Regions from separate parts of the Homo sapiens genome. Here region 2 is linked to region 1. The links come from fine-mapping of genetic effects on gene expression. A gene starts in region 1. The other region holds a variant in brackets. All regions are shown on one strand. Distances are from middle to middle.

Region 1 (5,387 bases):
TTGGCCTTTTCTTTATCCCTACACTAGAATTGAATGTTGGAATCTAAAACAGGTGCCATCTACAAATGTCTTGATTGTATTATAAATATTTGGGGCTTACAAAGAATACATTTTTCTTTTCGTTAAATTGCACATTTATATTTAGTTATAATTTTGCAAAGAATGACAGTATTTAATTCTCAAGACTGAATCTTTTAACATCTGCTATTTCCTACTGATGCCAGTTGGATGTTGTAGTTACATATCAATGTTATCTTATTAGATAATGAAGAAAATAGACTTATGTTAGAAATCACTCATTTATTAGTAAAGATTTCTTAGCAGATGGAGAAAAACACATTAAATCATTACCTGTAATTGAAAAAGGGAATCAATCTTAGGGCTTTTAAATTATAGATATTTTAAATAAATGATGAGCAAAGTAACTCATATTTTAATACTCCTCTTCAGTCCTTAAATCCAGTAGTAAAATAGTATGGATGTTTAATACTTAATGTACTACATTGAGGGATCCCTAGAATTAAAACAAAACGTTTAAATTTGAGTGATTGATATGGAGTCTAAAAAAGTGGAGTCTAAAGGCCAGAAGTTGATAGCATCTTCCATTTCTGTACAAAGGGGAGCTAAGAAATTTGGAAAGCATGGAACATTCTTCAACAATATTAACTTTTCCTTGCTCTGGTTCTCTGCTTTTGATATTCTTATGTAAAAGTTTTCTCACGAGAAGTGAAATAAATCTCAGTGATTAGTTTTTCTTGTGTAGACTCTAGAAGAATATGTCATCATTTAATGAGAGAGAACACAGAAGCAATTTGCAAAGTCAAAGTAATACAGTTAATTATAGTCATGAGGTTCTTTTAGCTCAAATTCAGTCTTCTCATAATAAGCATTTCAATTGCAAATAAAAATGGATAGAGGTGAATGTCATAGGTGGCTACCTTATTTGAATGCTTGTATTTGAATGGCCACATATAGTCACACACTTTTTCTTCTGATTCTGCAAACATAACCTTGATTTTTTAGGCACTTTAAGAACTAAGTAGTTAAACAGAGAAAGTTTAAAGCATGACAATATGTTCAGAGTTAGGAAAAATTAGTAATTAAAGGAGGATGGGGAGGATTATTTAGAACTATGTTTCTTCTCCTGAAAACTTTCTCCCTTATTGGATTCTACTCTCAAGATCTATGTGTTCCCCAAGGGACACACAAAACAATCAATCAAACAAACAAAAACCATCAGATTTTGAGCATTAGAGCCTGGTGTTTACCTGCACAGTGTTGGTCCTTTTCCCATTAATATGTTGGAATAGCACAAACAGCCACTGCCACTTATTCAGTACCTAATATTAATCAGGCACTGCAGTATGTAGTTTACACATGATCCTTTAATCTTTAATAAACCCATTATGCAGATGGGGAAAATGAGACTTTGAGATACTAAAGTAACTTGCATAAGACAGCTCAGTCATTAAGTGCAGGGATGGCATGCAAACCAAATCTGACTTTTAAACGTTACTTCATCACCACAGCTGGAGGTGAGCTGCATCAGTACACAATTCCCAGTGAAGACAGGAAGTTACATAAGGAGGGAGAATTTGTGAGTGGGTGAATAGAGCAGAAGGTGACTTTACTAACGTCTTTCGCGCATTCATTAGCCCTCAGCATGCTTAAAGGTGAAGTTTAAGGATGATTAAAGGTGAGGTTTTCTTCTTACCCCACAGTAGTGGCTGTTGACATTTGATATTTTTGCTCTTAAAGGTGTGAGATGCTCTTTGCATTACAGCCTAGTGCCTTACAGGAAAGAATTTCAGAGAAACTAAAATTCGTTTTAGTCCATATTTCAAGTAGTGTGTTTTAGTCCATATTTCAAGTAGTGTGATGGTACTGCTTAACAATGAACAGACATTGCTGTTCCGGGTTAACAGGACTAAGAATTTGTTCCCACATTCGGTCAGCACCAAGGCTAAGGAACAGCTTCACTCTCTAATCTTTCCACGAAATAGCTGTCACCTTGCTCCGGTGCTGAAGTTCGGGATGCGGAACTAGCTGAGCATGCGTACTTCCTCCCTGCCGGCCCTCCCTCCGTCCCGTTGGCTCCGCCCTCCGCGGACGTGCTGCGTCAGAATGCGCCTCACCCCTGGCGACCCCGGAAGTGGGTCGGGGGCTTGGCCTCTGCCCGGCCACAGAGCCGGAGCTGGAGGTGCTGTCCCGTCTGGCGGCGATCCCCGGGCAGGGCCCGGGGCCGGGGTTTGAAGATGCTGAACGTCCCTTCCCAGTCTTTCCCGGCCCCCAGGTCGCAGCAGCGTGTCGCCTCCGGGGGGCGTAGCAAGGTAAGCGGGTGGCTCCGTGAGTCTCTCCCCTCGCTGCGTTTCGAGCTCTGGCAGTGTGTTCTCTTCTTCCGCCCCAACTCCCAGCTCCTGCACCCCTCTCTAAGCTGTCGTTCCCTGCTGTCCTTGCCTGCAACCTCTTTCTGATCCCACTTTGTCTACAGTCCCTAAACTCTCCTTACCTCCTCCCTTTCCCCTAGCAGTCCCTCTTCTTTCTGGTCCTTTATCCCGCTCTATCCGTTCCCTTCCTCCAAGTCCTTTCCCGCGATTTAAATTTATATGACAGAGCCAGGCACTGTGTTTGCGGTATTATAGGCTCTCGGTATTAGCCGCCTTCCCTCAACCTCATCTTCTCCCTGGTCTTTTGTTCTTCACTGCCTGAAGGAGTTGTACCACATCACTCGATGTGGGTTCCCTCGCAGGAGGGAAAGGCTTGGCAGTGGCGACAGTGACCGTCCGTGCAAGGATGGGGACTTCTGGAGTTGGGGAGCTAGGTCAGGTTTACAGACACTATCCAAGACATACTGCCTTTCTTTCTTCCTCTGGTACCTGATTGTTTTGTCATTGCCTTTTCTACTAGTATCACTTGCTAACTTCGAAGCAAATATAATAATACTCTTGAGTTCTTGTTGAGCACAGTTGCTGTTAGCAACAGGTGGAATACTGTACAGATATATTTTATATTTGCAGAATTCAATAAAAATTGTGTTCTTTGTTCTTTTGCGAATGTTGTTTGTTCCTATTTGTTAGTTCCTCATTCTGTAACCATATCTTTATCTTTCGTTTGTGACACTTCCACTTAACTTGGGCCACTCGGTTAACTCTTGAGTCTTAGCATCGTTTGGAACCCTTATCGATTTTCTTATTTTTCTCCACTTAGACCTGGCGTTCTGATTCTAGTTCAGAATGAATATAGGTTCAGGGATCTGTGGTTTTCATTAGCTTTCCAGAGATTTCTTAAGTACTTACGGGTGGCCGTGTATATTCTCAGTGCTTTGCATGTATTAACTTTAATTTTCACAATTATCCTTTGAAGTGAAAGCTTTTATTGTCTCTATTTCGCAGAAAAGGAAACTGGCTAAGAAATATTGCCCTAAATTGCGTAGGCTTGTGTTGTGGTTCTGCTGTGAAATTTCATTTACTGATTCATATATCAATCATCTAGCCATCCAATCATGTATATTTTTCTCATTGGTTTTTGACCTATTTCTTGAAGCTAAATACTTGACTGAATAACAGTCTTTCCAGAAAGAATCTCTGAATTAGAATATGAGTTACTGCCCTTCTTCGTTAAAAATACCAACTGTGTTCTTAGCATCCATTTAAAGGAGAAAACTTAGAAGCAAAGACAAAAAGTCACACAGGGGGCGATGGCAAAGGTGAGTTTTTGGTCCAAAAAGAGAACAAAATAAGATTATTGTGCAATTCTAAGGAAAAGTCAGACTCCAGTCTTCTTCCTCTTTTCTTTGTGAAACAAGATGATGCTGAGAATGTAAAAACTGAGTCAGGTTTGGATGAAATGGGTAGAGGTTGAGAAAATAGAACCAAGTTGGGAAGGTCGTGTATTATACAAAAGGTTCTCAAATAGTGTTGTTTCATTCAACAGCATTTAGTTATAATATTGATGAGAAAAAAAATTCGTTTTGGCCAGGGCCACTGTCTTTGGAGTTTGCATGCTCTGTGTCTGCGTGGGTTTTCTCTGGGTACTCTGGTTTCCTGCTACAGCCCAAAGATATGCAAGTTAGGTTAATTGGTGTGTCTAAATGGTCCCAGTCTGTGTGAATATTGGGTGTGTATGAGTGTGCCTTGCCATAGGATGGCATCCTGTCCAAGGTCGGTTCCTGCCTTGTGCCCTGAGCTACTGGGATAGGCTCTGACTACCTGTGACATTGAACTGGAATAGTTGGGTAAATAATTATCTTACTTGTTTTTTAATTAATCTTTCTTAAATGTATATATAGCTAACATTTCTTTCAGTGTTTAATATTAGAAGTATTTTGGTCTTTATTTAGAAGTCTGGTGATGTTTTTGTGACCAGAAATATGCTGCAGGAAATTTTGTTTGTCAATTAACCCACGGTAAAATTAGTTTCGTTGTACATAGTTTAGTTTCCAAGCACCTAGTGACTAGCTTAAGTGAAGGCTTATTGTAATTTTTTAAAGGCACAGATTTTGAAGTGAGAAAGACCTAGATTCTTTCACCATATCTGCCAGTTAATCTCTTTGAGTCTGTTTCCTCAGATGTAAATGAGAATAACAGTACCCATTTTATAGGATTGTTCATAGGATTCAATGAGATAATGTTTCTCTTAGCACAGCCTTGGTAAGCACCCAGTAAATGCTACTTGTCCTGAGGCTTTTATTCAGATCTCACAGACTTGAGTGTGACACAGAATATGCACTCAACATATGATAGTTATTATTTCTATTAATACTGGTAAACAAATACTTATTGAGAACCTACCATATGCTGGAGTTTTTGGTCTCTGATTTCAAGGTGTTTAGTCTCATAGGTTGCATGAAATAGTGAACATTCAGTTATAAAGTCATAAGTACTACAACAGGGTGGTATGACCACTAAGGAGTTGAGGATCAGAGAAGCCTTCCAGAGGAATTAATGGGAGTTGGAGTGAGGTTGATCCATGCAGGGAAAGCAACACTACTATAAGCAAGTACTTGACAGCAATAAAGGAATCAAATAATCAGTTCCCATTTGGCTAAAGTATATAATGGAAAGGAGCAAAAGTTAGAACATGGAGCTAGTACAGTCAACTGTGACCAGATTGTGAAGACCTGGTAAATCCCTAGGGAATTTAGAGACGTTGTTGTAAGGTGACCTGAGGAGCCACTGAAGGAGGGAGAGCCTGTGATTAGATTTGCATTTCTGAAAGATTGCTTTAACTATCCTGTGGATTATGGAATGGAGAGAGGTGAGTGATTTTAGTTTGGGATGGGAAAGGTCATTTTCTCACACTTCATTTATTGGGATCAAGAGACCTAGAGTTTCAGTGATAGCCAGAATGGAATGATGTAGATTGATAGGATAGAATGTGAAAGGCAC
Region 2 (5,387 bases), 380 kb after region 1:
AAAGCGGACAAAAGATATGAACAGACACTTCTCAAAAGAAGACATTTATGCGGCCAACAAATATATGAAAAAAGCTCATCATCACTGGTCATTAGAGAAATATAAATCAAAACCACAATGAGATACCATCTCACACCAGTTAGAATGGTGATCAGTAAAAAGTCAGGAAACAACAGATGCTGGAGAGGATGTTCAGAAATAGGAATGCTTTTACACTGTTGGTGGGAGTGTAAATTAGTTCAACCATTGTGGAAGACAGTGTGGTGATTCCTAAAGGATCTAGAACCAGAAATATCATTGACCTGGCATTCCCATTACTGGGTATATACCCAAAGGATTATAAATCATTCTACTATAAAGACACATGCACACATATGTTTATTGAGGCACTATTCACAATAGCAAAGACTTGGAACCAACCCAAATGCCCATCAGTGATAGACTGGATAAAGAAAATGTGGCACATATACACCATGGAATACTAGGCAGCCATAAAAAAGGAAGAGTTCATGTCCTTTGCAGGGACATGGATGAAGCTGGAAACCATCATTCTCAGCAAACTAGCACAGGAACAGAAAACCAAACACCACATGTTCTCACTCATAAGTGGGAGTTGAATAATGAGAACACATGGGCACAGGGAAGGGAACATCCCACACTGGCTCCTTTTGGGGGTTAGGCGCTAGGGGAGGGATAGCATTAGGAGAAATACCTAATGTAAATGACAGGTTCATGGGTGCAGCAAACCACCATGGCACGTGTATACCTATGTAACAAATGTGCACATTCTGCACATGTATCCCAGAACTTACAGTATAATTTTAAAAATGTGGAAAAAAAGGAAGGAAATTCATACAACATGAATGAACCTTGAAAATATTATGCTACATTAAATAAATCAGTCATAAAAAGATAAATATTATATGATTCCACTTATATAGGGTACGTAGAGTCATCAAATTAATAGAGACAAAAAGTAGAATGGTGGTGGCCAGGGACTTGGGGGAGGGAGGAATGCAGAATTATTGGTAAATGGGTATGAAGTTTCAGTCTGGGAAGATGAAAAGGTTCTGGAAATGGATGGTGGTAAAAGATGTAATATGAAAAGTACTTAGTGGCACTAAACTGTATACTTAAAACTGGATAAGATGGCAATTTTATGTATTTTTATCACAATTTAGAAATATATATTTAAAGCATTTAAGGGTATAATAGAAGAAAACTTTCCTGAAATAAAGAAATATAAAGCCAAAAGAAAAAAAAAGAAAAAATCAAATGGCAAAGTGATTATGTGACTAGAGCCATATCGAACTGAGAATTATCAACTTTATCAAGTCTAACATCAAATAGGCACAGCAGAAAATCCACTCTGTTGTGGAAATGGTACAAGGCCTGAGCAGGTACAGAACATAGAAGTAATGTACTTTACCTGAATGGATGAACAAGACTCCCATAACTACCCCTTTCACACTATGCTGCTTCCTGATTCACACAGGAATTCCTCTTCCTGTTACCTCATGGGTATATCCTATGACCAACGAATGAAGGAGAAAATACCCTGGCCTGGTTCATACATGAATAAGGGTGATTTATTGATGCCAACCACAAATAGACTGTTGTCAGTCTACTGCTACACTCACAGGTATCCCTAAAGAAATGTAATACAGAGAAATTCTACCAGTGCAAAGAGCTCTAAGCAGAGCACATTTTCAGTTACTTACATGGAGATAGACATGGCCTGAGGTATTATCTATAGCATATACATAGACTACTGGGTAGTGACAAATGGCTTTGCTTCTTGTTCAGGGGCCTTGATAAAAACAAGATCAAAAGATCAAAGACAAGTGTATCTGGGGAAAGAGGCATATGGATGGATTTATGGAAGTAGGTACATAGCATGCACATTTGATATAGTTTGGCTGTGTCCCCACCCAAATCTCATTTTGAACTGCCATGTTGTGGGGGGCACCTGGTGGGAGGTGTTGAATCATGGGGCAGGTCTTTCCCGTGCTAGTTTCGTGATGGTGGATGAGTTTTGTGAGATCTGATGGTTATAAAAAGAGGAGTTTCCTTACACAAGCTCTCTTCTATTGCCTGCCACCATGTGAGATGCGCCTTTCACTTTCCATCATGATTGTGAGGCCTCCCCAGCCACATGGAACTGTAAGTCCATTAAACCTTTTTCTTTTGAAAATTTCCCAGTCTTGGGTATGTCTTTATCAGCAGCGTGAAAATGGACTAGTACAGCATTGCTATGCCTCATGTTAATGCTCACTAATGAGCACTCTAAATAAGAGGTACTTGACAACAAATAACACAGGTTAGGTTTCTCTGTGGGTGTGAGCTGTACTCTGTTTCGCTTTTACATATCTCACTGCTTGGATACTTGGTTTGTGAACAAATTTGCCACCACAGCTGGAAAAGAGGCTATTAATGGGCACAGCTCCCTAATGATGATCTAACTACTGCCCCCTGCTGAATGCCCAACTTGTCAGTAGTAGAGGCTGGTGGTGAAACCTCAATATGAAATTGTCAGAGTCCAGCCAGTCATTTCATATCAGATTAATTTTATTAGATCCTTTCCACCATGGAGATGGCAAAAATTCATCCTTGCTGGAATTAAAACCTACTATAGTAATGGATTTGCACTCCCTGCCAGTAAAGCCTCCACCATCACCACCAACTAAGGGCTTGCAGAAAGTGTTACCTATTGACATGGCATGTCTCACAACATTGTTTCTGCCCAAGTAGCTCATTTTATGGCAAAGGTGGTTCAGCAATGGGTGCATGATGATAGAATCCACTGGGATTACTAAATACCTCATCAC[C/G]TGGAAGCTGATGATCTATGGTAAAATAGCCTGTGGAAGACTCATCTGAAGTTCCAGGTTGGGACAGGATGAGATACATGTATGTATTATATCAGTGGCTGATATATGGTGCTGTGTCCTTTAAGCTAGAATACATGGATTCAAGAACCAAGGGTTGGAAGTACAATTTGTCTCTTTCACCATTACTCCCAGGTGACTTATTTGTAAGGTTTGAAATCTTAGGCTTTGCTGGATTAGAGGTCCTGGTTCCCAGGAGGCAGAGCACTTCTGCCAGGTAAGAGTGCCACAGAAATGGACTATCTCTTGCTGACTATCTCTTTGGGCTCTTCATTCCAGTGATTGGACTCCTCATTCCTGGATCAGCAGGCGAAAGAAAATTAATATAGTTGAAAGTCTAGTCTATCCTTACATATGTAAAGAGCCATTGTAACTGGAGGCAGAGAGGACTATCCAGTGACTTGACTGATGCATCTGCTGGTGTTTTCATGCCAGGTAATAATGGTGAGTGGGTGGTTATGGCATCTATGATGTGATAAAGGAAAAGCAAGCCTTGAGAAAAAGGTCTGGGTTACTCTGCCAGGCAAGAAACCTTAAATCAGATGAGATGATGGCCAAGGGCAAGAGAAATCTAGCATTGGTAATGGAAGACAGAGATGATGCCTTTCAATAAAGTCTGGGGACCAGCTGTAGCAGGGGTTGTAGCTAGTTCCAGAAACCCTCCTGCAGAGATTGTGGCTGGCCAGCTCCTTAAAGGGGACTCTGAGATAGATTGAACTTAAGGAAGTGAAAAGATAGATTTGAGTAGTGCAAAGGATCTACTGCATCAGATAACACTGTGAGCATCACTTCAAATCTTCTTGGTGCCATATCTTACTGCAGTCCTTGTTTCAACAACCAATTCTTGTAGACTTTGACCAGCTTCCTGCAGGTGCAGCTGAAGACTGCCTCACTTTTAGCCAAGGTCTGAGCTTCTCCCTTCCTTGGAACTTTTCTGACATTGAAGTGTGAAATGTTCATTGAAATGCCACACATACACAAGTTGCAAGTGGTTATGTGGTAGTCAAAGTCCCAGGAGCCACCTTCACTCATGGAGAGTGGAAGCCCATGGAGAAATGATACTCTTTTCTTCATGCATTTAATTAGGGCTTCTCAAAAGATCTTTGAATCCAGCACAGGTTAGCCATAGCTGCAGTCATTTGACAATGAATTCTTGTTTCAGCTTTCTCATTTTCCCTGTTTTTATTCCCCCAATCATAGAGCTGCTCTCCGGGTCCATGTTCCCAGATAAATTCCTTGTGAGCAAGCCTTTTTGGAAGAAACTCAGGCCTAGAGAACAATCTTATTAACTAAGTTGAAACAATAAAATAATATAAAGAATTGAGGTTTTAATATGCAAGTCTGCTTTCTTACTCATAACTACCGAGACTTAGGAAGAGTAATGATTTTGTAAATTAAAATATTTGTTTCAACTTATCTAAACTCTATTATTTATTCAATTTACATTTGAGAGCAGGTAGTCATAGTAAGCTGCTATATCACTAAAATGTTCATTCTACTATGTAAATTGCACACATTATCAGAGACTTACAAGCTGTGAATAAGAGGGCTTTTAAAAAAACACTTTGGAGTAGTATGAAATTGTCCAACATTACTTCCATATTGTTGAATAATTGATGCTATTATGTTCTCAAGGTAAATAAATATGAAAAGGAGAAAGTTCTTCAATAATAAGGTAAATGGAATTTGTGGCATTATTTCTGATAGTATTTGTAATGTCAGTTTACATTTTCACCATCAGAGGTCATGAAAGGACAGTTTAGAGCAGAAAATGTGAGCTTTGTTGAAAATAAATTTAAGTTTGAAATTTAAACTGAAACTTATTCTTACAAGGCCTTTTTAAAAAAGAAGTCACAATCTACTTAATGCCATTTATAAATTAAGAAAAATAATTTTTAAGAATAAAATTATCTGGTGGATTCCAAGGACATCCGGCTAATTATTGACTTTAGTGCTCTCAATTTATATTTTAAGAGCAATTTTAAAGTGCAAAGTATTGTTGACTACTTGTCTTTCAAATATAAATATAACATTTAATTTCAGTTGGGTTTGTGGGGTCTATAATTGATAAAAGTATTCTATTTTTTTTTTAATTTATTTTTTTTTTATTGATCATTCTGGGTGTTTCTCGCAGAGGGGGATTTGGCAGGGTCATAGGACAATAGTGGAGGGAAGGTCAGCAGATAAACAAGTGAACAAAGGTCTCTGGTTTTCCTAGGCAGAGTGTGTGTGTCCCTGGGTACTTGAGATTAGGGAATGGTGATGACTCTTAACGAGCATGCTGCCTTCAAGCATCTGTTTAACAAAGCACATCTTGCACCGCCCTTAATCCATTTAACCCTGAGTGGACACAGCACATGTTTCAGAGAGCACAGGGTTGGGGGTAAGGTCATAGATCAACAGGATCCCAAGGCAGAAGAATTTTTCTTAGTACAGAACAAAATGAAAAGTCTCCCATGTCTACTTCTTTCTACACAGACACAGCAACCATCCGATTTCTCA

Evidence for each region. PIP is the estimated chance that this variant, and not a neighbour inherited with it, causes the effect. A credible set is the group of variants that fine-mapping cannot tell apart.
Region 2: its variant is the best candidate, but not a certain one, in a credible set for the expression of CYB5R4 in whole blood (INTERVAL, PIP 0.87).

Annotation. Positions count from the first base shown.
Region 1 is chr6:83,857,528-83,862,914 of GRCh38, forward strand. CYB5R4 (cytochrome b5 reductase 4) reads left to right here and starts at 2,162. Exons shown (of 16, transcript NM_016230.4): 1 at 2,162-2,330. The coding sequence starts at 2,256. All of the region lies in intron 3 of RIPPLY2-CYB5R4 (RIPPLY2-CYB5R4 readthrough), which reads left to right. RefSeq lists a silencer at 2,233-2,282.
Region 2 is chr6:84,238,809-84,244,195 of GRCh38, forward strand. No RefSeq gene overlaps it. Among named protein-coding and RNA genes, the nearest start is that of CEP162, 14 kb to the left of the region's middle. RefSeq lists an enhancer at 4,896-5,387. The variant C/G (reference allele first, on the strand shown) is at 2,829.